2 separate regions of the Homo sapiens genome follow, and region 2 is linked to region 1. A link means that fine-mapping ties the variant in region 1 to the expression of a gene that starts in the linked region. Tissue or cell type: naive CD4 T cells. Region 1 holds a variant in brackets; the other region holds the start of a gene. All regions are shown on one strand. Distances are between the middles of the regions.

Region 1 (15,931 bases):
AGCCAGTTGCCAGTTCTAATAGTACAGATTTACCTTCTCTTTAATCGTCACATAACTTCAATTGATAATGTTATGTAGATTGACTTGTGACTAGCTCAGAGCTAGCGAGGCTGTAACCAAGAGCATATATAAAGTACTGTGCAGCAGTGCGTCACAAGGTTTTTGCATAGGGCTTAGTCAAGGCTTTTGGAACCGCCCTCAGTTGCACCTTGTGCTATATTAGTACTTCTCAGACAGGAAGAATTTTCTTTTGCTGGTGTAGCTCGTCCGGTTACCTTCAGGGTAAGTGTGTACGGTTCATGTAAATGAGTTTCTCTTGTCTAACTTTATGTGATTCTTATTTGATTCTATAACTTACTGAAATTTTGGGCATTTTGAAATACAAACTTAGGAAATAAAATAATGTTCCAGTATAATGCAAAACTTCTTTATAATTTGTGAAGAAATGAATGTGCAAAACTTTGAAGAGTCTTAGGTCTCAGAAATTACATTTTATATGTTCTAATTTTAAGAGCTTCTTGTTTCACCTGTAGATGTTGAGAAAAAGCAAAGTACCTTCAGAAGTCTCTTTCCAGGTTGAGGGGAAACACTCTAAGATTCAATTTGGTTGTTCATTCAGTTGGCTATGTGACTCAGTTTTACTGACAGCCACAAGCTTTGTGTTACTAGGATTAGGAACAGTTATTATGGGTAGTAATAAAGATTATCAATTTTTATTTTGTGCATGTGAGCTTTACCCAGGATTTTATAGAATGGGATTATCACTGGTATGTTTTATGAATTGATAAAAGCTAGATTACTGATTTATAACAAATTATATATTGAAAATTAAGATTCAAAAATTTATATTACAGTAAAAGCCTAGAATATTATGGCTAAGTTATATTTAAATAATTGAATTATCTATATTTTATAGGTTTTTTTTTCCTTTAAATCAGAGAAGTTAGATCATGCTGCAGATCATTTCTTAAAGCAGTTTGCTTAGTTTTTATTGGCAGCCTGCATCCAAGCCCGGCATCTCTGGGTAGTGCTTGTCACCTATGCTGTTGTCCTAGGACAAATTCAAGGACAGAAGAACTCAGGGTGTCTTAAGGGTTGTCAGTATAAATTACTTAGTTTCCATGTGCTGTATGTGGTTTACTTATCTTGAAAAAATGCTATTAGATATTAGAGGTAGTGAATGTGGGAAGGATAGAGGAATAAATTCTAAACATTGAAATTGTTTATTTGCATAAATATCCACAAAATTCTGACTCAGTAGCTGCTTTACCATTTGGGAAAATTGGTTAAAATTGCCCATTTTTAAATAACTAGCTTTTGAAATCTGTTTTTTCCTCTTTCCTCCTATATCTCTTCTACCCCTCCCACTCTTTGCTATTTAGTTTCATTTTTGTTTTATGCCTGTATTGAGAAAGTTTCACTTTGCAGCGTGTGTGTTTCTTTTTCCCCACCGCTGAGTTGAAAATCTAATTAGGAAGAATTATTTAAATGCCCCACCAAATTATTACAGCCATACAGAAAAGATGAAGTTACAGTTTGATTTTGCATGTGCTAATCACCCGAAGACAGTAACATTAAAAAAAAAAAAAAACAAAAAACCCAAGCTTAAGAAAGTCAAATAGTACAGGTTACTGAAAAAGTATAGGAAAAATTGATGTTTGGTACTGTTGCGGATACTGTGTCCATATTATGGTAATATATGCCTTTTCTTATGTGAGTAATACACAGTTTAGCATTCACAATTTTATTACCTTATCAATGTAGTTTACATGTTTCTGCGAGTATCACAATTAAAGCAGTCACAGTTTTTAAAGCTATATTCATGAATTTAATCTTTTTCACTTTCCTGTAAGACAGAGTCAAGTAGACCTTTAAAAGTAATCAGTTTGCATTCAGGTACTTTAAGACTTGCTTTAAATCAGGTAATTTTTTTTCATGTAGACATACCAATCAATTTTCATTAATTGACTTGTAAACTATCATCAGAATGAAATACTGTGATAACTAAAGTTTTCAGTTATCAAGTTTGTGTTAAGTGAAGTTCTTACCTCTTGCTTCAGTCTTTAGACTTGTCCTACATATTCCTTGTAAAGAACTCTGCTATAGTAGAGACCTTAATCTCATACAAAAAGCACACAAAGTAATTATTTTCCAGTTTCCACATTTTCCAGTTCACATTTAAAGACTCTGAAGACTTAAAATGTTAAAACTTCCTTTGAAGAGAGTTCGTAGATCAAGGGCAGTATTTTCTATTTTTGAACACGTCTTCTACACTTGATGTGTTTTTTCCAGCAACTCTTCTCTTGAAGCATCTGCAACAGATGACCATTGGCAAAGTAAGCCAGAACTTTATATACCAGGTATAGGTTTACAAGCCTATTGGTTTAAAAATACTCTGCCCTAATTTTCAGTGTCTTCCTTAGAATAGTGCCAGAATGCTGACATTTTACACCTGAGTCTTTACACTTTTTAAATGATAAGACCTTAGAGTAATTTTTGTATAAGGACTGCAGTATCACTTTATGTGAGATTATCTTTGAACAAAGATAAATTCTGGTCAGATTGCTAGTGAGGACTGGCAAGAATGAAAGATCTTTAGTTGAAATTTGCATAGTATTCATGAATTGTTGGTATACTTACCAAAAAAAAAAAAAAGGTCCTAAAGTTGGCCATCAAATTTCTTATCACTCTTTGTTTTTATTTGATGAGACCATGAGAAAGATGATCATTCTTTTACCAACTTATACTGACTTTTTTCCCCTTTAAACTCAAAATGTATGTTCCAAAAAGAGCCATACTTCAGAGGTAGAGAATAAAGAGGATTTCTACTACCTGAATGTGTAACAAAAAGATCTTAGATTCCTAGATATTAAAATGTGTTTAATTCTTCACTGTGTGAATTGTTTGCCCTTGGGCTTTTCAAATGTTTCACAGATTATGCGGTATTTTTGTAAACTCTACAGTACTTTTCCACAGTCTCCACACTATTCCTTTTTTTCAAGCTAATGAGATAGTTTTATTTAAATAGTGCTCTTTGAGAAATCTAGACTGCTTTTCACATATTAAACATCAAAGAAAAGCTGTAAGCATTTAATAATTAGGCTTTGATTGCTATGAATGAAGAAATAGACTTGCATGCAGCTTCTATAATATCTTGTTTGTTAAAAATCTGGATGACTGTGACAGAAAAAAGTTAGACCAAGGAAAGTCTACTTAAACTTGACTATAATCATCTAAGCTAAAGACTACTAATCCCCAAACTACCATTATATTTTGAGGGTGGTGATCAAATGTTTTATGAGTTATATAGTGTATGTGTGTATATATATAGCTGTACAAAGATATATACACATACACATCTTTATATCGATATATATACACACACTCATACTGCAGATACATTCTTTTTCAGATGTGAAAAATTGCAAGTTATCATCTTACTGTTTGGAAATCGTGTTTACTCAATTCTAAGATGCCGTCAATTATGAGACTATCAACTTACTAGCAGGCTTTCTGAGAGAGGGAGAAAAAGACATTTTGTAATTTCATGGACTTAAAATGGAAGGGAGTAGGGACCGAATTTTAGAATTTGAGAAAATTTGATATATCTGCTATAACACCTTTTAATTATAAAGAACACAGATCTAATGTCCAACTTATATTACTAGAGTTTAAGAAAAAGTCAGATATGTTCTCGCTTTCAACTAAGTTGCCATTTTTAAATAGTGCTTTAATTATAAAATTTTACTTATCTGAAATAAAGTAAAAGTAAAGTCATTATGGAACAAACATAGCTTAGTAATTTTCCCTAAGATTTATACTACCAACACAGCAACAACCAAAAATCTTAGAATAATGATGAGAGATGTTTTAAAAACTGGTTCCTTTTGTTTGATGAACAGATATATTTAAACTTCACCCAGACCCTAAAAGGTTCATTCAGTTGATAAACACTCTCACATACCTATTTTGTGCTAGACACAATGCTCGATTCAAATACAGCTCATGTCTTAGTCATATCATATTAAAAAATTAAAGATTTTAGGCCGGGCGCAGTGGCTCATGCCTGTAATCCCAGCACTTTGGGAGGCAGAGGCGGGTGGATCACGAGGTCAGGAGATCGAGGCCATCCTGGCCAACATGGTGAAACCCCATCTCTACTAAAAATACAAAAATTAACCAGGCGTGGCGGCATGCGCCTGTAATCCCAGCTACTTGGGAGGCTGAGGCAGGAGAATCACTTGAACCCGGGAATCAGAGGTTGCAGTGAGCTGAGATCATGCCACTGCACTCCAGCCTGGCAACAGAGCAAGACTGCATCTCAAAAAAAATAAAAATAAAAAATAAAAAAATAAAAATAAAATTTTAATGTAAGAAAATTGAAGGAAAAAATGGACTTTTGTGTTATGTCTTCCCTTACTTTGTTCTGTCTGTATATTCCTATATTGATTCGGTAGTAGCAATGCATAATTTTCCCACAAACTTCATCCTTACATGTAGAGAAAGTGTTGATAAAATATTCTTGCAATAAAGTGCTCTTTGCAAATATGTACTTCATTTTCACTGTTTATTCAATTTTCTTAATACCATATAAGTTCTTACAGGAGAGCTTCAGATTCTCCATACAAAATGGTTAATCTAAAACTATGCTGGATAGAGTAAAACCCTTGCTGAGCTTCTTAGAAAAAAAAAAAAGATGCTTTATGTGTCAAATATAGGCTATGTTAAATCATAGCAAAGCCTTTTGCCTCATTGCACTCCCGAAAGCAAGATGGGTCACCAGCAGCCCTACTGGAGCCACCCACGGAAGCTGGGCCAGGGTTCTCACTCTTGTCACATCTGCCCAAACCAGCATAGTCTGATCTGGAAACACGGCCTCAATATGTGCCGCCGGTGTTTCCATCAGTATGCAAAGGACATAGGTTTCATTGAGTTGGACTAAGTGATCTTCCTTGAATGGATTATCCAAGGCATCCACCCAATGAAAGAAACCATGTTAGTTCTTTGTACATAAAATAAACATTTTTAAAAAACAAAATAAATAAGTCATACCAAAAATTCCACCTTAATATATTATTGGCATAACAGGAAGAACCTGAAATTTATGTATGTCACGTGTACTTTTTTTTTTCTCTTTTGCTGTGACATCACCTGGGAAAATCCAGAAGATTGGATAACCAAGAAATGACTAATCAAGAGTCTGCCGTACATGTGAAAATGGTGGGTATTTGCCTATTTCCAGTTCCATTTATTAATGGTAAATCTTCACCACTTTTACCTCTGTCTCTAACCAGATAATTATGGGACTGAAATTTTATACAACTCTTTCTTCACAGTGCATCACAAAATAAACCTCAAATACTTATTGAATTGAATTTCAAATTATCTTTAAAATGTTTTTGCTTGAAATCTAATGCACATTGTCGTGCTTCTCAGAATATAAAATGTTTCCCCATTCCTTTTTACGCTAAATTTTCTTTGCTCAGCAATAACACACTTAAATCGTACAGTGTGAAATACATTATTGTAGGTTTCCAAATTTAAATGACAAGCATTCAGAAATTTTTAAAATACTTACTTGCATGACAATAGAGTTGCATTATATATACTAGGATGAGATAGGAAATGTACAGGCTTTGGAGTCAGAACTGGCTTCGTATCTTAACTCATTCCGGCCGGGTGCCTGTAATCCCAGCACTTTGGGAGGCCGAGGCGGGCGGATCACCAGGTCAGGAGATCGAGACCATCCTGGCTAATACAGTGAAACCCCATCTCTACTAAAAATACAAAAAATTAGCCGGGCATGGTAACAAGCTCCTGTAGTCCCAGCTGCTCTGGAGGCTGAGGCAGGAGGATGGCTTGAACCCAGGAGGCGAAGGTTGCAGTGAGCCAAGATTGCGCCACTGCACTCCAGCCTGGGCGACAGAGCGAGATTCCGTCTCAAAAAAAAAAAAAAAAAAAAAACTCATTCCTTATTAGCTTCTATAGCCCTGAATGAGAGCAGTAATCTTACCTTTAAGAAATGGGTGTGAAACCGCCAACTATGTGTTATTATTCATACTCAGTGAAAACGTCAAGTTCCTAGTAACCCCAGATTAAGCATTCATTAAATATTGATCTACTCTATTACGTTAGTGAGTGTTTTAACTGTGTAACTGGCATATTTATTTGCATGTGTGGAAAGAAATTACATCTGTTCTCCATATTCACAGTGATAAAATCTTAAAAACAACAATTAAAAATAATCCTTTCTTTTAAAGAGAACAACTGCCTCATGATCTCTTGTTTTCTCTTTGTGTTCTTATTATTGTTGTGCCTCCTCTTCTGTTCCATTTATTTTTTCAGCTTTCTCTTTCTCTCTAGCTTTTTTCTGGCCTATAAACTAGAGCGTGACACAGCATTTTGTCACGCTTAATAAATCTCTTGTTCATCTTTCCCCCAACCAGTGTAGGATCAAAGGTGAAAGTTGACTCAAAATGGTGATTAAGTCATCGTCAGTTTAGTTATTGCTCTTAGGTTGAAGCGTATGAAATTGTTTTTATATGTCAAATATAGTCCAGTATTGCCAGTTTTATATGGTTCAACCTAATAACAGCTCTTTCTATCCATTGAAGGATTGGCACTTGATTCATTGGAATTGAGCATATCTCTTTGATACATAGAATTAAACCAGTCTAAAACTTATTTTCTTGTTTGGGTTGACTTTTTTTTTAACTTACGTGAACACAAGCAGTATAGGAATTCCCTGACATATAAACAATGTTAATCCTCTTTGTATAATGTTGTTACTTGGGTCCTAGAGCCCTCTAGAAGGTGTTTGTGGAGGCAAGTAGCAGTGTATTCACTCCACAGTTATTCAGACTGTTGAAGGAAAACAAGCCAAAAGATTTTTTTTAACTATTATTGCATTAATTTACACAATTTTTACCTTGGGTTTGCTTTCCTAAAAATATTGATAGGTCTGGCCGGGCGCGGTGGCTCACGCCTGTAATCCCAGCACTTTGAGAGGCCGAGGTGGGCAGATCATGAGGTCAGGAGATCGAGACCATCCTGGCTAACATGGTGAAACCCCGTCCCTACTAAAAATACAAAAAAATTATCCAGGCGTGGTGGCGGGCACCTGTAGTCCCAGCTACTCGGGAGGCTGAGGCAGGAGAATGGCATGAACCCAGGAGGCGGAGCTTGCAGTGAGCTGAGAGGCGCCACTGCACTCCAATCTGGGCGACAATGCGAGACTCCCTCTCAAAAAAAAAAAAAATTATATATATATATATATGTCTTTTATATTGACAACTTTATAGCATGTTATTCTTTACTTCTCATGAACAGGATTCAGATCTCTCTGTCCAGACTTTTTACATGCACACTTCTCTGTGTACACTCAAGTTCTATACAAACAGAGCTATTTCTCTTTTTCCCATATTAGACCCTGCACTTTGATTCCTCCCTAATCTCAGCATATCTAAATCCTGTTTCTCTTCCAGAGCCTACCTCTGTTGGCTCTTCCTCCTTTGACCCCAGAAGAAGAAATCTTTGTTTCTTCTATTCCTTTTACATTTTATCTGGACATCTTGGCAATGTATTAATTATTTGGGTTTCTATTTTTTAATCCACATTAGAGAATATGCACCTTGAGTGTAAGATTTATATTTTATATATCTCTTACAGAGCGGCTTCACACACTGTCTTATACTTAATATGTGGTGAAGGAATGAAAGAATTTGGCCTACACTATCTTAATGTAGAAACAGACCAAATATGTAATAAGCAAGGGAAATCGCTATTACTAAAATTTAGTAGTGCATAATCTTCCAAATAAATCTGAGAATCATCTATGTGTGGGGGTAAATGTACCAGTTTGAATAGGTGGCTTTAAATCTATACTTTCTGTGTAGCTGGATAAAAACTCTAGTGCCTACTTCTTTGTACCACTGCAGTAATGAAGTCTTTTGTTGCTACCAAATATAAACAATGGAAAACCAAGAAAGAATATTTCTCTGAGAACATCTGACTGGAATTTCTTAAGTGATTCAAACTAATTTTTATGTGGGCTATTTCCAGAAAAATGTAGGATAATACTAAGGTGATTTAAAATTCACTGAGGCTGGGCACTGTGGCTCATGCCTGTAATCCCAGCATTTTGGGAGGCCAAGGCAAGAGGATCGCTTGAGCTCAGGAGTTTGAGACCAGCCTGGGCAACATAGTGAGACCCGTCTCTACAAAAATTAAAAAAATACCTGGGCATAGTGGCAGATGGCTGTAGTCCCAGCTACTCTGGAGGCTAAGGTGGGAGGATCTATTGAGCCCAGGAGGTCAAGTCTGCAGTGAGCTGTGATCACGCTACTGCACTCCATCCTGGGTGACAGAGTGAGACCTTGTCTCAAAAATTTTAAAATAGGTCAGGTGCAGTGGCTGATGCCTGTAATCCCAACACTTTGGGATGCTGAGGCAGGCAGATTGCTTGAGTCCAGGAGTTCAAGACCAGCCTGGGCAACACTACAAAACCCTGTTTCTACAAAAAAATGCAAAAATTAGCCGAGGGTGGTGGTGAGCCCCTGTAGTCCCAGTTACTTGAGAGTCTGAGGTGGGGGGATCACCTGAGCCCAGGAGGGAAAGTTGCAGTGAGCCAAGATCACGCCACTGCCCTCCAGCCTGGGTGACAGAGCAAGACCCTGCCTCAAAAAATAAAAATAAAAAAACATAAAAGTAAATTTTTTTTTTTTTTTTTTT[G/TTG]GAGACCGAGTCTCACTCTGTCACCCAGGCTTGGAGTGCAGTGGCGAAATCCTGGCTCACTGCAACCTCCGCCTCCTGGGTTCAAGCAATTCTCTTGCCTCAGCCTCCCAAGTAACAGGGTTACAGGTGTATGCCACCATGCCCAGCTAATTTTGTATATTTAGTAGAGATGGGGTTTCACCATGTTACCCAGGCTGATCTCGAACTCCCGACCTCTGGTGATCTGCCTGCCTTGGCCTCCCAAAGTGCTGGTATTAGAGGCATGAGCCACTGTGCCTGGCCTTTTTTTGTTTGTTTTTGAGACAGAGTCTCGCTCTGTCACTTGGGCTAGAGTGTAGTGGTGCCATCTCGGCTCACTGCAACCTCTGCCTCCCGGGTTCAAGCGATTCTCCTGTCTCACCCTCCAGAGTAGCTGGGATTACAGGCATGTGCTACCATGCCCAGCTAATTTTTGTATTTTTAATAGAGACAGGGTTTCACTATGTTGGCCAGGCTGGTCTTGAACTCCTGACCTTAGGTGATCCACTGGCCTTGGCCTCCCTAAGTGCTGGGATTCCAGGCGTCAGCCACCGTGCCCGGCCAAAAATAAATTTTAAAAATAATAAATAAATGAAACTCATATAGATGAACATACATATTTATAAATTAAAAGTACAAGTAATTTTTTTAGTCTTGGTTAAAATATGAATTGTTTTCTCTGTACATTGTGGATTGTATAACCCTTAGTTTATTTTGTTTTTTATTTTTAGTTTAAGAATAATAATTCATTATTTTAAATATAATGTATTTATGTGTGTTTTTTAATACAAAATCTTTTTATTTATTTATTTTTTTTTTGAGACAGGGTCTCACTGTGTCACCCAGGCTGGAGTGCAGTGGCATGATGTCAGCTCACTGCAACCTCTGCCTCCCAGGCTCAGGCAATCCTCCCACCTTAGCCTCCGAGTATCTGGGACTACAGATGTGCACCACCATGCCCGGCTAATTTTTGTATTGTTTGTAGAGACAGGGTTTTGCCACGTTGCCCAGCCTGGTCTCGAGCTGCTGAGCCCAAGTGATCCTCCTGCCTCGGCCTCCTAAAGTGCTGGGATTACAGGCATGAGCCACCATGCCCGGCCGTGTTTTCTTTTTTAATCAAAATTTAATATAATTTGAAATCTAGTTCAAACAGAATTAAACTTTGAAGTTGTCATAATCTCATCCTGGAAATTAGGATTATCCCTAGTCTGGAATATTATCATTGGATTGATGATACCAAGCCACACCCAGAAATTTGGTAACTGTACTATGGAGCTTCTCTCTTTTTTTTTTTTTTTGTTTTTTTTTGAGGCAGAGTCTCGCTGTCGCCCAGGCTGGAGTGCAGTGGCGCGATCTCGGCTCACTGCAGGCTCCGCCCCCCGGGGTTCATGCCATTCTCCTGCCTCAGCCTCCAGAGTAGCTGGGCCTACAGGCGCCCGCCACCTCGCCTGGCTAATTTTTTGTATTTTTAGTAGAGACAGGGTTTCACCGTGTTAGCCAGGATGGTCTCGATCTCCTGACCTCGTGATCCGCCCGCCTCAGCCTCCCAAAGTGCTGGGATTACAGGCCTGAGCCACCACGCCTGGCCAGAGCTTCACATTTTTATCTTATCCCAGTGTATCCACAAGATCATATCAAATCTAATATTAAACAATTGAGTTGTGGATAAAATGGCATAACTTTGAAATCCATTTCATCTCTATAAATATATTAAGTATTGGTCAAAATAAGTGAATTTTAGGTCTTTCTTAATCATTTTTGGTGTTGATTCAGATTGGCATCAATCAACCAACATACCCTGATTCTTTTCAGGAAGGCATTGCTCCCTCCCCAACATTTTACGCTGCGGCTTTACCATAAAATGAATTTGTTCTCTTTTTATCACAAATGATGGAAATTTTTAGCTTCTTATTTATTTTTCATAAAATTTTATCATAATCAAATTGAAAATTTTTCAGACAATTCAAAATACCTTGCCCTTCAAATTTGAAGTATCATTATTTATATGCCACCAAACCAAGTCTGTGTTTTTATAAGAGGGATATAGACAGAAGGACTTTGTGGAGGTAACAAAAGTATGTGATCTCATGCAACAGTTGGGGCATGTTCAACAACAACCACCACAACAAAAAGTATGTGATGTATTTCATCATACTTCTACAGTGTGCTTATATTATGATACTCTTTGACATATTCCATACAGGAGTCTTTGATTCTCTTTCTTAGGCTATATTGTAAAGTATTTGAGTAAAATACCCCATATCTCAAGTTCTTGTGAAGTATTTCTCATATAGATCAGTGACATTAATTGTGTATTGCAGGAGAGGAGTATAGTATACTATATAACCCAAGACAGATAGAATGGTCATTTTTATATTTCTTATACCTATTTCATCATTATTTTACTCCCGTGCCATTTGTGTATTCACTACTTATGAATACACAATGAAAATGAATGGTTGTATGTTGCACAGGAGCCACCAATGCCTTTAGCTACTGGTTCTCTTTCATCCATTGTGATTTAAAGTAAACCAGTATTGGCTGGGCATGGTGGCTTACACCTGTAATCCCAGCACTTTGGGAGGCTGAAGCGGGGAGATCACTTGAGCCCAGGAGTTTGAGACCAGCCTGGGAAACACAGCAAGACCTTATCTCTATAAAAATAAAATAAACCAATCTTACATTTGTTAGTGTAGCAGAAACCAGCCTTCTTCGAAGTGGTCTTGGTGTGATTCTCCTATCCGTTATCAAAAACTTGAAGCTGTGATTTGCCTGAGGTAAGACATCTTGGGTACACTGAAATCAAATATTTAATTTTTTTGGTGAAAAAATAGTCTATGATATATATCCTGTGTTGCTTTCACCATAATGGATTGGTTATTGAATCAAACATATGCTGATTGCTGTGCATCTGCCAGTTAAGGCTGAGGTAAGAACAGAAATTAGTTGTCAAGAGATAAACTTACTAGCTGAGGTATTTGTAAGGGAGTTACAGAAGTGATATTCCAAAACAGCAGTGGTCCCTAAAACTCAGCAGAAAAGCAGAGTAAATACTACTCATCATCATATCCCTAGCATTTAGCAAGAGTGTGTGGCACAAAGTAGACACATGGTAAATATTGGTTAGGCGAGTGAATGGGTTAATGTATGAAAAAAAAAAATAGGAACCAGTGCCTATCTGCCTTTCCATCTATTGAAAAATCACTATAAAATACATAGATAACCTTTAAGCCATTGAAACTCATCCAGTTGAGTTAAAAGGATTACTACATCAAGGTTAGTTGCATTGCAGGTCATCCTACTTAAATATGGCTTTTTAAAATTAAATATATTGTAGGTGGTAGATCTTTCATCCATGGAGAAAATTTTAATGTTAGCATTTGTCTTTTCTCTACACTTTCTTTTTTTTTTCAAGCTCTGCCTCCCGGGTTTACGCCATTCTCCTGCCTCAGCCTCCCAACTAGCTGGGACTACAGGCACCCGCCACCACGCCCAGCTAATTTTTTATGTTTTCAGTAGAGACAGTATTTCACCATGTTAGCCAGGATGGTCTCGATCTCCTGACCTCGTGATCTGCCCACCTCGACCTCCTGAAGTGCTGGGATTACAGGCGTGAGCCACTGTGCCCGGCCTCTTTCCTCTACACTTTCGTTATCATCTTCCAGTCTTTGGAAGACAGTCCATCCTTTTTCTGATTTTTCTACTCTTGCCCATTATGTAGGAACAACACGGCATCTGATAGATTTACGTGGTGAGATTCTCTTGTAGCAAAGATAGAAGGTCCAGGGAATTTTTGTAACCATGTCCATGACACACATGAACTATGTTAATATTACTAATAACATACCCAGAATAAAAACATATAAATAAAGATTATCCAGTACAAACCAGTATAGAACTTGGATTTGAGGTACTATTATTGCCTATGCTGTATAACTGACTATAAAATGAGGCATAATTTTCTCCTTCTAGTTGTATTGTACATGTGCTATGAGAGCTTGTACTGATTTTTCCTCTAATCAGTTTCATTCTATTTGTGATAAAATAGCTAGTAACAAGAAATAATACTTAAGATTAAATTGTTGAGCAACCCTAAAGTCTTCATAACTCTGTAGTAGCAGCCTACACCCATTTTTTAAGATGGGTCTTGCTGTGTTGCCCAGGCTGGTCTCAAACTCCTGGGCTCCAGTGATCGTCAGCTTCCAAGTAGCTGGGATTACAGGCATGTGCCACTGTGCCTGGCACAATACTTTTTGGCAGTTATCTCCATTTGAAATAAATCTATTGTAAAATGTGTGCCAAGAACAGTATATTATTTGGAAAATAGTACAATAAAAAGAGCAAAGATCTTGAAGCAGCTTTTCAAATTTAAAATATTTTAAATGTATTTTAATTATACAAAGACAAACTTTTGGGGGAATAATTGTGATAATTGCTTCCTTTCTGCTCAGGAACATTTTAAAATATAAATATGTAGGCAAGCTAAATGTATGTATTAATTCATAAAAGCCAGATGCAAAAGTATATAATGAGGATGAGCTAAAACTATATGCGTATATATGCATGTTTCAGAGGGATATGCTGAAGGTATTATATTAGTATTAGGGTGGAAGTTTAGTTACTGTATTATATAAAATGGAGGCTTAACGGGAGTCATCTTAAGATTTTTAGAAAAATTAATCAATCGAGGGGTAGCTGCTGGGGTATTCATGGTTAAAATATGATTTCTGGGCTCTCTGGATTGCATCACAACCCAGAAATGAAACTAATAGAAAATCACAGAAATGAAACTAATAGAAAATAAATTTAAATGTTACTTGTTTATCTTCACGTAGTTGAACTCCAGGCAGTTTTTATTGTCTTTTTTATATTTTTACTGTTATTTCTGTGGTAAGCGTGCATTGCTTTTATACTTAGAAAAAGATATATACTTTCTGATAAAGCAATTGAATCACAAATGTAGTTTTATCTTACTCTGTAGCTGGAAAATACTGATAAGTTTTAAGTATTTTTGTGTGTATAAATGGTAATGTGGGAGCTGGGCTTGGTGTCCCACACTTTTAATCCCAGGACTTTGGAAGGCCAAGATGGGAGGATTGCTTGAGGCCAGGAGTTCAAGATCAGCCTGAGCAACAAAGCAAGACCTCACTCACTTCTACAGAAAATTTTAAAAATTAGCTGGGTATGATGGCGCATGCCTTCTACCTACTCAGGAGGCTGAGATGGGAGGATCATTTGAGCCCAGGAGTTTGAGGCTACGGTGAGCTAGGATTGTGCCACTGCACTCCAGCCGGGGTGACAAAACAAGACCTCATCTCTAAAAAAGTAATAACAAAATAAATAAACGGTAATTTGATGTGGTGGCTTGCTTTTTAAAAATAATGCCTTAATATTTTTATGTCTTTAAATAAGACAGGTTTCTGCTTGGTATCAAAGGAACCTGGGGAAAGAAGAATGAAAACTAATTAATTAATTTTCTTTTACTTTTAGATGCCAGAATTCCAGAAAAGTTCAGTTCGAATCAAGAACCCTACAAGAGTAGAAGAAATTATCTGTGGTCTTATCAAAGGAGGAGCTGCCAAACTTCAGGTGAATAATTATCAAGAAGCCTTGGCTGTGTGTGTTGGCTCATGCCTGTAATTCCAGCACTTTGGGAGACTGAAGCAGGAGGATCACTTGAGCCCAGGAGTTCGAGACCAGCCTGGGCAACATAGTGAGACCCCATCTCTATTTAAAAAAAAAAAAAAATGGCCGGGCATAGTGGCTCACACCTGTAATCCTAGCACTTTGGGAGGCCGAGGCGGGTGGACAAGGCTGAGGTCAGGAGTTCGAGACCAGCCTGGCCAACATGGTGAAACTCTGTCTCTACTAAAAAATACAAAAATTAGCCGGGCCTGGTGGCGCATGCCTGTAATCCCAGCTACTTGGGAGGCTGAGGCAGGCTAATCACTTAACCCCGGGAGGCGGAGTTTGCAATGAGTTGAGATCATGCCACTGCACTCCAAAAATAAAAGCTTAATAATAAAGGCTTCTTTTTTTTTTTTTTTTTTTTCTTTTGAGATGGAGTCTCGCTCTGTTGCCCAGCCTGGAGTGCAGTGGCGCAATCCTGGCTCACTGCAACCTGCTCCTCCTGGGTTCAGGCGATTTTCGTACCTCCGCCTCCCCGAGCAGCTGGGATTACAGGTGCCAGCCACCACAACCAGCTAATTTTTTTGTTTTTTGAGACTGAGTATTACTCTGTTGCTCAGGCTGGAGTGCAGTGGCACGATCTCAGCTCACTGCAACCTCTGCTTCCCGGTTCAAGCAGTTTTCCCTCCTCAGCTTCCAGAGCAGCTGGGATTACAGGTGCCTGCCACCACACCCAGCTAATTTTTATATTTTTAGTAGAGACAGGGTTTCGCCATGTTGGCCAGGCTGGTCTCAAACTCCTGGCCTCAAGTGATCCATCCACCTCGGCCTCCCAAAGTGCTGGGATTACAGGCGTGAGCCATCATGGCCCAGCCTTATTTTATTTTTAATGTTAAAGCCGACTCATTCATCTCCTGTTTGATAAAATCTGAGTACAGCAAGTTTAGGTAGACAGTTTTTGCCTATCCTTTAGGAATATAAAATCCAGAAAATATATATCTTGAGTTGTTCTAAAACAGACAGAATACCCTATTGGAAAAACAAAAGTTAATAATCCTGAAATACTCTTAAGTTTTTATTAGTCTTAAGTAAGAAGCTAACTCATGCTGTGTACAAGCATTAAACCATTTTAAGGATAATATTTAAAAGTGTTTAGTTTTATGCTGCTCTTTCATGTTTTAATCATAGTAGTTCAGATTAAGATACAGCCTTATTAAGGGGATAATTGAGTTTTTAAAAAGTTGTCTCTGTTTTAAAGGAATGTGTTACATGTAAATTAAATCAACAATCTGGATATTCTGTAAAAAAAAAAATTATTCCTTTTTTAAAACATTTCTGAAAAATAATATTTAACCCAGTCTCCTAAGTTTCAAGAGCTGGCCAGCTATTTCAATGTGCATTCATTCATTGGTATAGTTTAAATAAGCAAGTTAAATCCAGCATGTAATGGTATCAGTAACTAAGAGCTTCATATAGTTGAATTGCTTCCACTGCATTTTTGTGCATTGACCAAGTTGGTCGAAAATCTCTAGTGAGAAGAGTAGCCATATCACCT
Region 2 (14,371 bases), 33 kb before region 1:
AAGCCATCCTCCCGCCTCAGCCTCCCAAAATGCTGGGATTATAGGAGTAAGCAACCGTGCCTGGCCAGCTGGTGTCTTATGAGATACTTTTACTCTCTCCCTCACATAATACAATCTTCATTATAATGCTCTTAAGCTCACTTCCCTGCTGCCTAAAGTGACTGATGAGATGCCCTGTGATTATATATCACTAACAGTATAGCTCTTGATGGCCAGACAGGATTTGTTAAAACAAAACAAAACAAAACAAAACAAAAAAACACTAGAGAATGCTGATGTTATTTGGTGATAGATCATATCTAAAGGATAAATATTGGAAAATATTGAGCAGGCTATGCTGTTGTGTCTTTTGTGGACATTACAAAAAGTAAGCCTTTCCTTATGGTGATATCACCTCAGCTGGCTGAATTAATAGAGCTCACTAGAACTTGCCAGTTGGCCAAAGATCAGACAGCTAAAATTTACACTGACAGTCACTATGCTTTTGGTGTAGCTCATGACTTCGGAATGTTACAGAAATAACAAGGTCATCTGACTTCCTCTAGACACCCTACAAAACATGGCTCTCACGTCTCTAAACTTATAGAAGCCATTCAATTACAAAAATAAATTTGGCTATAAGATCCCTAGATATTCAAAAACTGAGTCTCTGGAAAGTAAGGGAAGCCATTTTACTGATGTAGCAGCAAAGACAGCTGCCCTATTACCAGTATGAGATGAAATCATAGAAATAGCCATGCTTAAATGGAACCCAATTAAAAGGGAATGTCAGGATGCTCAAGAAAGAGCCTCAGAAAAGGAAAAAGAAATATGATTAGCAGGCTGAGTGTGGTGGCTCATGCCTGTAATCCCAACACTTTGGGAGGCTGAGGCAGGAGGATCACCTGAGCCGAGGAATTTGAGACCAGTCTAGGCAACATGGTGAAACCCTGTCTCTACAAAAAAAAAAATACAAAAATTAGCCAGGCATGTTGGCAGGTACCTGCAGTCCCCAGTTACTCAGGAGGCTGAGGCAGGAGGATTGATTGGGCCCAGGAGGTTGTGGCTGCAGTGAGCCATGATTGTGGCACTGTACTCCAACCTGGTAGACAGAATGATACCATGTCTCAAAAAAAGAAAGAAAAGAATGAAAGAAAAGAGAGAGAGAAAAGAAATATGGTTAACAAAAGGCAAATATTCCCCGCTACCACTTGTAACCTATGGTATGGACTCAATGACAAACCCATTTGCCTATGGGATTTCAATTTCCTATGTTACAACACATCTATGAGCTTATACACTGGAGACCTAAAAAAAAAAAATGATTGCATGAGAAAAACAATACTACTGAAAACCTTCACCCACAATAGCTTATAAGGTTTATGCTAAATAAACATAATCTAGCCCCTCTGTGAGTCACAGAGGCACTTCTCCCTTTCTGCTGGACCCTTTGATATTTGACAAACACATTTCGTTCAATTATCTCCTGTTCAGGGATATAAATTCATGTGGGTTATGATTTGCATGTTCTCCCACTGGGTTGAAACATTCCCAAGCAAAAGAGCCACAATGCAAATTATAAGAAAATGTCTGTAATAGTCCATTCTCAGACTGTTATAAAGAAATACTGAGACTGGGTAATTTATAAAGAAAAGAGGTTTAATTGGCTTTGGGTTCTGCAGGCTGTACAGCAAACATAGAAGCTTCTGCTTCTGGGGAGGCCTCAGGAAACTTACAATCATGGCAGAAGGCAAAGAGGGAGCAGCACTTCACATGGCCAGAGAAGGAGCAGGGGTGGTGTGGGGTCGGGGTGGGGGAGGCAGGGGACATGCTACACACTTTTAAACAACCAGATCTCACAATAACTCACTCACTGTCACAAGAATAGGGGATGGTGCTAGCCTATTCATGAGAACTCTAACCCCATGATCAATCATCTTCCACCAGGCCCCACCTCCAACACTGAGAATTACAATTCAACATGAGATTTGGTGGGAACACAGGTCCAAACCATATTATTGCACCCCGGGCCCCTCCAAATCTCATGTCCTTCTCATGTTGCAAAATAAAATAATTCCTTTTCAAGAGTCTCCCGAAGTTTTAACTTATTCCAGCATTATCTCGAAAGTCCGAAGTCTAGTCTGAGATAAGGCAAGTCCCTTCTATTTATGAGCCTGTAAAATCAAAAACGAGTTAGTTACTTCCAAGATACAATGGGGTACAGGCATTGGGTAAATACTCTCGTTCCAAAAGGGGGAAATTGGCCAAAAGAAAGGGGCTACAGGCCCCATGCAAGTCCAAAACCCAGTAGGGCAGTCATTAAATCTTAAAGCTCTGAAATAAGCTCCTTTGACTTGATGGCTCACATCCAGGGGATGCTGGGGCAAAGGGTGGGCTGCCAAAGCCTTGGACAGCTCCGCCCCTTTGACTTTGCAGGGTTCAGCCCCTATAGCTACTCTCATGGCCTGGCATTCAGTGCCTGCAGCTTTTCCAGGTGCATAGTGCAAGCTGTTGGCAGCCCTACCATTCCAGGGTCTGGAGGATGGTGACCCTATTCTCACAGTTCCACTAGGCAGTGCCCCAGTGGGGACTCTGTGTGAGGGCTCTAACCCTACATTTCCTCTCCATACTACCCTTAAGTAGAGGTTCTCCATGAGGGCTCCGCCCCTGCAGCAGGCTTATGCCTGGACATCCAGGCTTTTCCATATATCCTCTGAAATCTAGGCAGAGGCTCCCAAGACTCAACCCTTGCACTGTGTGCACTGACAGGCTTAACACCACATGCAAGCTGCCAAGCTGCCACGCTTGTCCCCTCTGAAGTAGCAGCCTGTACCTGGTCCCCTTTGAGACATGGCTGGAGCTGGAGCAGTCAAGATGCATGGAACAGTTTATTATTTATTTTACAGCACACTACTGGGAGATGAAGACATCAAATGTCATGACCTCCAATTGGGTGACTACATTTATTGGGAAAGACATCAGCTAAAGGACTCTCTTAAGCCTCACTGGAAGGAACCTTATTAGATACTGTTGACTAATCATTGTGCAGCTAAACTTGAAGGATTTGACTCTTGGGTTCACATCTCTCATTTTAAAAAAGCCCCAACTCCTAAATGGATTTCTAAGCCCTCTGGAGATCTTCAGTTAAAATTTTGAAAGACTCCTGGCTCCTCCAAAGACAAGACAAAGACAACAACAGGGTACACAGTGTATCTCAAGATACTAGACCAGTCCCATACAATAAATTTATTCTATAGCTGGGCATGGTGGTGCATACCTGTAATCCCAGATACTTGGGGGGATCGCTTGAACCTAGGAGTTCAAGACCAGTCTACGCCACATAGCAAGACCTCATCAAAAAACAAAATAAAACAATAATTTCCTCTGTATATGACTTCTACTCTCATGCTTTCCTTTTATACTGTCTAAATATTTAATGACAACCCCTCTGTGGAGGACAAAGCAACTCCATCTTAAAAGTTAATCTGGCCGGGCACGGTGGTTCACGCCTATAATCCCAACACTTTGGGAGGCCGAGGCAGGTGGATCACCTGAGGTCAGGAGTTCGAGACCAGCCTGGCCAGCATGGTGAAACCCTGTCTGTACTAAAAAAAATACAAAAATTAGCTGGCCATGGTGGTGCACACCTGTAATCCCAGCTACTTGGGAGGCTGAGGCAGGAGAATTGCTTGAACTTGGGAGGCAGAGTTTACAGTGAGCCAAGATTGTGCCATCGCACTCCAGGCTGGGTGACAGGGCGAGGCTCCGTCTCAAAAAAAAAAAAGCTAATACACCATGTTGGCTTCTGATATTCTTTGTTCTGAGAAGGCATCTAAGATTTCCAGTTTATCTATCGTTCATTGTGTAAAAGCAAGTACTTACCATAAATACTGCCCTAAAGTCAAACAAACTTGATATTATTATATGTCAATTGTCCTACACATTCCTTCTAAACCACCCCTTCCCACTGGTATATAAGCCTTGGGTCTGAGGGGTCATGGTAATGGGCATCCACCATCTTGTCTTACTGCCACTGAAGACACAGACGTGGCTTCTGTTTATAACTGGATTTGTCAGCCTCTGTCTTCAGCCTCTCAGCTTCTGTGGACTTTGGGGTAGGTTTGCACATATCTGCTCCCCACAAAACACCTTCCTTTATTCAATACCCTCACCATACATTGGAAAATAACTAATTTGATGAACATAAATATGGGACAGACTCTTATTTTCCAATATTTCCATATCAAAATGACATTGGTATTCTAATGTCAACCGCTTGGAACCAATCCAATGTTCCTACAGCTTATGGTACTTTCTTTTCAGATATAATATACTATCTGAAATAGTATAATGTACTATCTAGGTTCCCATGTAGAAAGGAACATCCAGAAAGTCCTTCCCAATTCTAGATCTCGTTGGTCTATTTTTAATACTTGACAAATGGATCATTGTGTTTCTATAAATATAGGTATCAGTTACTGTGCAAGGTCCCCAGGTATAAGAAAAGACAGCAGCAACCTGTGTGCCCTGTCACAGTATCTCTTGACTGAGGGGACAGAAACCTTGCTTTTGTGGTTGGAAAAAAAACAGTATAATGTAACCTAAAATCACACAGTAGGAATCACTTAATGGACTAGGATCCCACTAGATGGTAATTTAGGACTCACTCAGAAAAAATATGGGAAGTCTTATGACACACTCAGACTAAGCTCTATTTAGGAGTAGCTACCATTCACCTCATGTTGATTTGGAACACTCAACATTTTTGGGTCCATAACTTATACTCAAACTGCACCTCTGCCATAAATGCCCAGTGGCAACAACATGTTTGGTGGATATGGCAACACTGGCCAAGTAAGGTAGAGATCCTTAGGGGCAACAGGTGCAGGATTGGGGGTGTTAGGGCAAGTCAAGAGTGCATATAATGAAAAAAGGCATTTTCAAAAAAAATCAATACTTACTGACCTAAATTTAAGCTAAAGGAAGTACTCTTCCAGGAAAAAAATAAAGGCTAGGCAGCTGCCTGAAAAGATAATGATGCTATTTTTAAAGCGGGTAAATCAAACTGCTCAATTTATGGGGAAAATGCTAAGGTCCAATAGTGAAAAAGAGCATGTGTCCAAACTCACTTTTTTAGTTCTTTTTTTTTTTTATGGATTTAGGGGTACAAGTGCAGTTGTGTTACATGGATATATTGAGTAGTGGTAAAATGTGGGCATTTAGTGCACCCATCACCAGAATAATATACATTGTATCTAATAGGTGGTATTTTATCCTGCCCCCCTACCCTTGCACCACTTGGAGTCTCCAATGTCTATTATTCCACTCTGTATGTTTATGTGCACCCATTGTTTGACTCCCACTTGTCAGTGAGAAAAAAAATTAATTTTGTTTCTGAGTTATTTCACTAAAGAAAATGGTCTGCAGTTCCATCTATATATATAAATATATATATTTATATATAAGTGTTTTATATACTTATAAATTATATATATAAATATATTACATATTACATATTATAAATATATAAAACACATATTTATATATTATATATAATATATACTATATAACATATAAAATATATAAAATAAAGGCTAGGCAGCTGCCTGAAAAGATATTGTATATTATATATACAAATATAATGTTATATATAAAATATATATTTTATATATACTTATATAATATATAAATTATATATTTTATATAATTTATATTATATAAAATATATATAATATATATATCTTTATGTCCATGAGTACTCAATGTTTAGCTCCCATTTATAAGTGAGAACATGCAGCACTTGGTTTCCTGTTCCTGCATTAATTTGCTTAGGATAATGGCCTCCAGCTGCATTAATGTTGCTGCATATGACATGATTTTGTTCTTTTTATGGCTGTGTAGTATTGACTCATGTCCATGTACCACATTTTCCTTATCCAATCCATTGTTGATGGACACGTAGGTTGATTCGATGTCTTTGCTCTTGTGAATAGTGCTGTGATGCATGTGTCTTTTTGGCAGAATAATTTCTTTTCTTTTGAATATATACCCAGTAATTAGATTGCTGGGTTGACTTGTAGTTCTGTTTTATGTTATTTGAGACATGTCCAAACTGCTTTCCACAGTGGCTGAATTAATTTACATTCCCACCAATAGTGTTTAAGCATTCTCCTTTCCCCATGGCCTCACCAGCATCTGTTGTGTTTTGACTTTAAAAGCCATTCTGACTGGTGTGAAACGATATCATATTGTGGTTTTGATTTGCATTTCTCTGATGACCAGTGTTGTAGAGCATTTTTTCATATGCTTGTGGGCCATTTGTATGTCTTCTTTTGAAAAATGTTGTCCTTCATGTCAAGGGCAGTATGGTCACTTTTTAATGGTTTTTCTTGTTGAGTAGTTTGAGTTTCTTATAGATTTTGAATAGTCACCCTTTGTCACATGCATTCTTTGCAAATATTTTCTCCCATTCTATAGGCTGTATGTTTAGTCTGTTGATTATTTGTTTTGCATTGCAGAAGCTTTTTAGCTTAATGAAGTCCCATTTGTCAACTTTTGTTTTTCATTTTTGTTGTTTCCTTTTGAGGACTTAGTCATAAGTTCTTCGCCTAGGCCAATGTCCGGAAGAGTTTTTCCCAGGGTTTCTTCTAGGATTTTTATAGTTTCAGGTCTTACATTTAAGTCTTAAATCCATCTTGGTTAATTTTTGTATACGGTGAGAGACGGGGGTCCAGGTTCATTCTTCTGCATATGGCTCTAAAATTATCCCGGCACAATTTATTGAATAGGGTGTCCTTTTGCCAGTGTATATTTTGTCAAATATCAGTTTGCTGCAAATATGGGGCATTTATTTCTAGTTTCTCTATTTTGTTCCATTGATCTATGTGTCATGTCTATTTTTATACCAGTACCATGCTGTTTTGTTTACTATGGCTTTGTAGTATAATTTTAAGTCAAAATGTGATACCTCCAGCTTTACTCCTTTTGTTTAGGATTGCTTTGTCTATTTGGGCCCTTTTATGGTTCCACATGAATTTTAGGATTGTTTTTTCTAATTCCATGAAGAATGACATTGGTAGTTTGCCAGGTATTGTGTTGAATCTGTATTTGCTGAATATGTATTCCTGAATCTGTATTTGCTGAATCTGTATTGTTGAATTTGAATTGCTTTGGGCAGTATGGTCATTTTGATGACATTAATTCTTCTAATCCTGGAGCATGAGGCGTTTTTTCCATTTGTTTGTGTCATCTATTCTTTCTTTCTTTTTTTCTTTCCTTCTTTCCTTCCCTTTCTTCCATTCTTTTCCTTTTTCTTGAGACAGGGTCTCACTTTTTTTTTTTTTTTTTTTTTTTTTTTGAGACACAGTCTTGCTCTGTTGCCCAGGCTGGAGTGCAGTGGCATGATCTCGGCTCACTGAAAGCTCCACCTCCTGGGTTCATGCCATTCTCCTGCCTCAGCCTCCCGAGTAACTGGGACTACAGGCGCCCGCCACCACGCCCAGCTAATTTTTTGTATTTTTAGTAGTGACGGGGTTTCATCGTGTTAGCCAGGATGTTCTCGATCTCCTGACCTTTTCACCAAGGCTGGAGTCCATAATCATAGCTCACTGCAGCCTCCAACTGCTAGGCTCCAGCAATCCTCCCACCTCAGCCTCCTGAGTAGTTGGGACTACAGGCATGCAGTGTCAGGCCTCTGAGCCCAAGCTAAGCCATCATATACCCTGTGACCTGCAAGTTATATGCCCAGATGGCCTGAAACAAGTGAAGAATCACAAAAGAAGTGAAAATGGCCTGTTCCTGCCTTAACTGATGACATTCCACCACAAAAGAAGTGAAAAATGGTGGGTCCCTGCCTTAACTGATGACATTACCTTGTGAAATTCCTTCTCCTGGCTCATCCTGGCTCAAAAGCTCCCCCAGTGAGCACCTTGCGACCCCCACCCCTGCCTGCCAGAGAACAACCCCCCTTTGACTGTTAACACATTTTCCTTTACCTACCCAAATATTACAAAACGGCCCCACCCCTATCTCCCTTCACTGACTCTCTTTTGGACTCATCCCGCCTGCACCCAGGTGAAATAAACAGCCTTGTTGCTCACACAAAGCCTGTTTGGTGGTCTCTTCACACGGACGAGAGTGAAACGCAGCACCATGCCCAGCTAATTTCTTTGGTTTTTCAGGGATTGTAGAGACAGGGTCTCGCTATGTTGCCGAGACTGGTCTCAAACTTGTGGCCTCAAGCAATCCCCCAACCTTGGGCTTCCAAAGTGCTGAGATTACAGGCACCAGCCACCTCACCTGGCCTGATTTCTTTCATCAGTATTTTGTAGTTCTCCGTGTAGAGATCTGTACTAGTCTGTTTTCAGGCTGCTGATAAAGACATACCCCAGACTGCGCAATTTACAAAAGAAAGAGGTTTAATTGGACTTCCAGTTCCACGTGGCTGGGGAAGCCTCACAATCATAGTGGAAGGCAGGGAGCAAGTCCCATCTTACATGGATGGGAGCAGACAAAGAGAGAATGAGGAAGACGCAAAAGCGAAAACCCTGATAAAACCATCAGATCTCCTGATACTTAAGTCACTACCACGAAAACAGTATGGAAGAAAACACCCCAATGATTCAATTATCTCCCACCAGGTCCCTCCCACAACACATGGGAATTATGGGAGTATAATTCAAAATAAGATGTGGGTGAGGATACAGGGTCAAACCATATCAAGATCTTCCATGTCTTTCAACAAGAATAATTAATATGTTAATTCACATAGAAGCTGAAATAGTCTCCAAACATGGCCAACCCTCTTAGATTCAGAAACACAAGGTTTACACTTATAAAAAACATATGGACCCCTTTCCTCCTGGAAATTTACTACCAGGGTTTGTAGTCTAATTGACTATACTCCTACAGCTTTAACATCTCATATAGATGATAATCAGACCTATGATATAGTATAACTAGTTAAAATAGAAATCATATTTCAGAGTACCCACATTCTTCCCATGTGCAGTTGACGGGCCATATTACAAAAACAAAATTTGGAACTCCATTTCTGTTTTAGATTGTCCACAGCTTCAAGACGAATGTTATCGTCTACAAAATGTTTAAAATCCTGAAATTATAGAAACGTGGCTTTAGTCTCTACCCATTCAAAATAATATGTAATATATGGAAAATGTTTTTGTTGAGGAAGAAAGATAAATGAGACTGTGACCATCTTAGGCCTCACAATCAGACAACATTTAAGTCATATTGGTATTTGGTGCAAAACTGGATTCATAAAAAATTACTTTGGCGACAAAATGACACAGTAGTCTAGATATTGATACTCAAATATTCTGGGTATTAAAACTCAGTCTTCTTCAGGTTATACTCCCAGCTAACTTACTTTGGGACACGTTCTCGGTCTATACTGAGTCTGTGTTCCCAGGCTTAAGTCCTCAAACTTGGCCGAGTAATAAAACTAACCATGATTTCTTTAAGTTTTAGTACCTGTTATTTCACCTTTCGGTCGACAAATCGTTTTTCTCATGTTCCTCTGTCTTACATCAATTTAATTTGTAGACCAGCCAAATGACCTAAAAGGCTAGAAGGAAACAATTTTTCCTCCCCTACAACTATTTCCTCTAGTCCTCCGGCTGAAAGTTGTTCCACGTCCTGGGCAGAGAGAGCCCCACCAGGCAGCACCACCAGCTCCACAGAGTTGGAGCGATTCCCCCAAGAAGCTCCCCTGCGCCCCTCCTCACCCCCAGAGACCAGCAGAAGAAATGGCATCTATCCCTTGGAAGACACTAGGCAGGAGAGAACAACTGCAAGCCCTTCTGCTCACACAGAAAAAAGGATGGCGGAGGTGGCGAATGGGATGTAGCAGAAACCCCGCGGCTGCGGCGGAAGGGACACCGCCCCTCTCCAGCCTAACTCTGAGCCATCTTCCCCCTGTTGTTATAGCACTTAGAACGGACGCCACTGCGCAGGTCACACCGTGCCGCGCAGCCTTCTGGGGGTCGGAGTCCAGAGGGGCTGAGGCGCGAAGGCGGAGACCGACTTCTTAGCGGGCCGCAGTTGGAATTAGATTTCTACTGGGGCGGGGCTCGAGCGAACCACGGCCTAATCCTCATTAGCAGAGAAGGATAATTACCGCAATACTCTGCCCTGCCCTGACAGCAGCTCGTGAGACCCTGAGTCTGCTGAAGGCCGCCTCCAGCCTGGGCTCCGGGCACAGGCCACACCCCTCCCGCCGCGTCCTGGCCTCTCCCATCGATGGCGTGTGGGTGGGGCTTCGTGGGGGCGGAGCTGCGCGGGGCGGGGCGTCGCTGCGCGGGGCGGGGCGTCGCGGGCTCGTCCGTGATGCTCTGGGATCCCGCGCTTCCGAGACTCGCAGTCTACGCGAGCTGCCTGTTTTTTTCCTGCTTGGACGCGCATGAGGGCCCCGTCCATGGACCGCGCGGCCGTGGCGAGGGTGGGCGCGGTAGCGAGCGCCAGCGTGTGCGCCCTGGTGGCGGGGGTGGTGCTGGCTCAGTACATATTCACCTTGAAGAGGAAGACGGGGCGGAAGACCAAGATCATCGAGATGGTGAGTGTGGAGGCTCGGCGCGCCCAGAGCACGCGAGGGGCCGGCTGGGCCGTCCGCTGGCCTCGGCAGCCTGTGCTGGGCCGCTGTTCGGTCGCGACGGGGAGCTGCCGGCGTCGCCTGTCAGGCTGGGATCTCGCTAGCTCGGGACGCGCAGCTTGGGGGACCCGGCCGCCCCGCGTGCGGCCACTCCGCGGGCTTGGTGACCAGGGTTGGGTCCCCGGCTGCGGCCCTTGGCTGCCCGTGGTCTTTGTTAGGTTTCCGTTTGAAGGAACAAGGCAGAAAATAGATGAATCGGACACAGGCTACTTTGTGCTGCAAAACCCGTTTCTCTAGAGATAAGCTGCATGTCCTGGGCAGGTGGCTCCTTCTCTCCCTGCCTTGCTCCCGCCCTCCCCCCGGATCCGCGTCAAACCGTTGCCGCTAATCTAGTTGCAATTCCCGCAGAGGACTAGTTTTATGTTGGGGCTGCCGTGAGTTAGATTATGAAAATGTGCAATATCTAAAATTTTACAAGAATGGCAATCCAGGAGAAATTCAGGATAGTTTATTTTGTATTTGAATGTATTCCTTCTTGTCTCAAAACTCCCACGAAATATCTTTGTTTTCATCTTAACTCCCAAAGCTCTTGTATACATTTTCGAATTTAATTTTTTATTGAAGAGGGTGTCTCAAGAATTCCCTTTGAGATACATTATAAGTAATTGTTTCAAAAATGAGGATATTTAGTTTCGTTTTGTATTTTAATTAGAACCCACTCAGGAAGACAATTCTTGCACAAACTTGCACGCTTATGTATTTCCTGAAATGCATAATCCTGGGTATACGCCTGACCGTGTGCTATACATGTGAACATCTAGGGTCAGATGATTTATGATAGAAAAAAATTTAAAATCTACACTAAATAATATCATTTTAGGGTGTAATACTTGGAATTTCTGAGCACCTGCAATATGTTCCAACTGACGAAAGACACGATTTGTCCTATTGGTTGTACTGACCCCAGGTTGAATACAGATGTATTTGCATAATTAAAATTAGCCAGTGTCCCAGCTATTTGGGAGGCTGAGAGGAAGATCACTGGAGTCTGGGAGTTCAAGGTTATAATCACACCTGTGGATAGCTACTGCACTCCAGCCTGGGAAACATAGCGAGACCCTGTCTCTTAAAAAAAAAAGTTAATTCCCACTTGTCTCATATTCCAATAATATTCCCTAATTTTGAATTAATTTATTCTTAAAGGGTCTTAATAATTCTAAAGGCTTATTAAAATTCATTTGTCCCACATCTGTATGCCCACAGCAGCAAATGGTTTTAACTCAGAAGTTTCATTTTGCTTTTGTTGCTTTCCTGCTTAGAAAACTTGGCTTTCTTTTGCCCAAGGTTAATAATGCCTATGTAGGGGAAAAAACCGAGTTGCCATATCTCCCTGCCTGTGCTTAAACTATGGATTGGTCTGTATACCACTTATCTAAGCCAAGTAAGGTTAAAAATCAGTGTGTTCACAAAATCCTTCAATGATACCATCATAGGAACAGTTTGCTATCTTTGTGACAAATAATGAAGACCTATCTAGAATACCAACTTATTGGTACTAAAGAAATCAGTCAATATTTACATGTATGCATAGTATATTAATTCAGATTGTAATATATGTGTAGCCTGCTAGTAGCTTTTCAATGGAAAAAGTGAAAAGAGCTTCATGTTAACTTTTTTAATTTTAATAGGTTGCTTCTTCAAGTGGAAGAAGTATTTGACTGGGGGTCAGAAGACCTGGGTTGGAATCCTAGTTCCATCTTTCTGTAATAATGTAGGTCTGCTCTGCCCATCCTCTGCCCTCCTCCCTCAGAAAAATCTCTGCAAACCCATGATGTCCAACAGACATAGCTCATATTGGTCACAGCTAACGGAGTTAACTACCTAACCAAGTTGGGCCTATCTAACTGGCTAAGAAAACCAATAACTTCTGGGACTTGGTCAAAATGATGCATTGTCTTGCAAGAGTTTTTAATTGAGAGACATGAGGAAGTTGCTAGTGGGTTGTGTATGCTACAGCTGAAATATCCCATAGGGCAGCAAGATTAATGTACAGAAGAAGCCAGTCATGGCTAGGCATGGTGGCTCACACCTGTAATCCCAGCACTTTGGGAGGGTGAGGTGGGAGAACCCTGTCTCAAAAAAAAAAAAAAAAAAAAAAAAAAGAAGGAAAGCAAGATACGGAATGGGATCAAGAAACTGAATTGTAAAGGAATTTTGTAAAGCCATTATAAAGAGTTTGCTCTTTATTTTGCAACAAAGGATCATCAAAGGTTTGCTTTGGCAGGGTACAGTGGCTCACGCCTGCAATCCCAGCACTTTTGGAGGCTGAGGCGGGAGGATCCCTTGAGCCCAGGAGTTCGAGACCAGCCTGGGCGGCATAGGGAGACCCTTTCTCTACAGAAAATAAAGATTTTAGCCAGTGCAGTGGCACACACTTGTAGTGTAGTCCCACCTACTTAGGGGCCGAAGGTGAAATCTCTTCAGTCAAGGTGGTCGAGGCTGCAGTGAGTCGTGATCACACCATTGCACTCAAGCTTGGGTGACAGAGTCACCCAGAGTCTCAAAACAGAGAAACAAAAAACCCAACAGTATGTTTTATGAAGATGAGATAAGGTGGACTGGAAGGGAAGATCCTGGAAAGAAATAAATTTAGGAGGTTGGTAGTATTGCTTGCGAAAGATGATTAGAGATCTTAAACTATGGCACTAGCAACAGGTATGGAAATAAGGGATCAGGAGACAAACATTTCCGAGATAAAATCAACGGGACTTTGTGCACAGACTGTAGAGTCATACAAACCTAGTTTTGAATCTAGTTTTTCTCATTTATCAAGCCATGTGACCTTGGGCAAATTACTTAACCTCTCTGAATCTCCCATTTTTCATCTATTAATTGGGAGATAATGATAGTACCTACTTCATAGGTTGTGAAGATTAAATGAGATAACACAGTGCCTAGAACATAATTGCTTTCTTTCAGAGCTTATTATTTGTGATCATTAGATAAAGGGATTAATTGTAAGGAGAAATAACTTTAAGATTATCAGGTAACTGCTGATTCTGGTTATATTATTAGCCAAGATGAAGAGAAGGAAAAAATGGCAGGTTTGGAAAGTAGCCAGGAGGTAAGGGAAATGTGGAATCACAAGTTCACTTTAAGTCATATGAAATTTGAGATGATCAAGGAATGACCAACTAGAAATGTTCATGAAATAGTTAATATATTTAAAGTGCTTAGAAAAGTGCCTGGCCCAGAGTAACCAATATATACATTACTTATTGTTATTATTAGCAATAGCAACTGAAAATGGAAGGCTGGAGCTCTAAAGATAAATTGAGGCTAGAAATAATATTTTCCCTAATGTCTAGCCTCTCAATGGCCAGTGTGGAGCTGGATATTATTTCTCATCCATAGTTTTACAGCGAGAAGAAAACAGAAAACTTGGCAATGCCAAGTTCAGTAAAGATGCTGAAAGCTGTCAGAGGTGGAATAACAGGAAATGTTTCCAAAAGAAGGGGCAGAATTAGCTATGTCCATCTTCTCTAAGGTCAGAAGTTGATGACAAGATCAGAAGTTGGTCTGAAAGGCTATGGTAGCAGTGGGTTGAGCCGCCGTTGGTAAAACAATGATGTGAAGACAACTAAAAAATGACTTTTGGGCAGAGGAAGTAGTTGTGCTGAGGATGGGTATTTTGTTTTGTTTTTCGAATGGTTGGCACAGAAGTATGTTGGTGGGCAGAGGAGTAGTGAAAAGCAAATGGTTAAAGATAAGAGGAGGAGAAAA

Which allele goes with the higher level. Alleles are on the strand shown, and positions count from the first base shown. SD is a standard deviation of normalised expression in the study named.
For the expression in naive CD4 T cells of the gene that starts at base 10,344 in region 2, allele G in region 1 goes with a higher level than allele TTG (large effect, 1.1 SD a copy in Schmiedel 2018).

Evidence for each region. PIP is the estimated chance that this variant, and not a neighbour inherited with it, causes the effect.
Region 2: NT5C3A starts here. The variant in region 1 is fine-mapped to the expression of NT5C3A in naive CD4 T cells (Schmiedel 2018, PIP 0.90).

Annotation. Positions count from the first base shown.
Region 1 is chr7:33,025,223-33,041,153 of GRCh38, reverse strand. NT5C3A (5'-nucleotidase, cytosolic IIIA) reads left to right here. Exons shown (of 9, transcript NM_001002010.5): 2 at 14,239-14,337. It also overlaps the pseudogene RPS29P14. Among named protein-coding and RNA genes, the nearest start is that of NT5C3A, 30 kb to the left of the region's middle. RefSeq lists a silencer at 127-226. The variant G/TTG (reference allele first, on the strand shown) is at 8,731.
Region 2 is chr7:33,058,749-33,073,119 of GRCh38, reverse strand. It overlaps NT5C3A (5'-nucleotidase, cytosolic IIIA), which reads left to right and starts at 10,344. Exons shown (of 9, transcript NM_001002010.5): 1 at 10,344-10,552. The coding sequence starts at 10,415. LOC124901610 (a long non-coding RNA gene) reads right to left here and starts at 9,935. Exons shown (of 4, transcript XR_007060279.1): 1 at 9,472-9,935; 2 at 8,973-9,091. RefSeq lists an enhancer at 9,830-9,989 and silencers at 10,230-10,349, 10,650-10,709.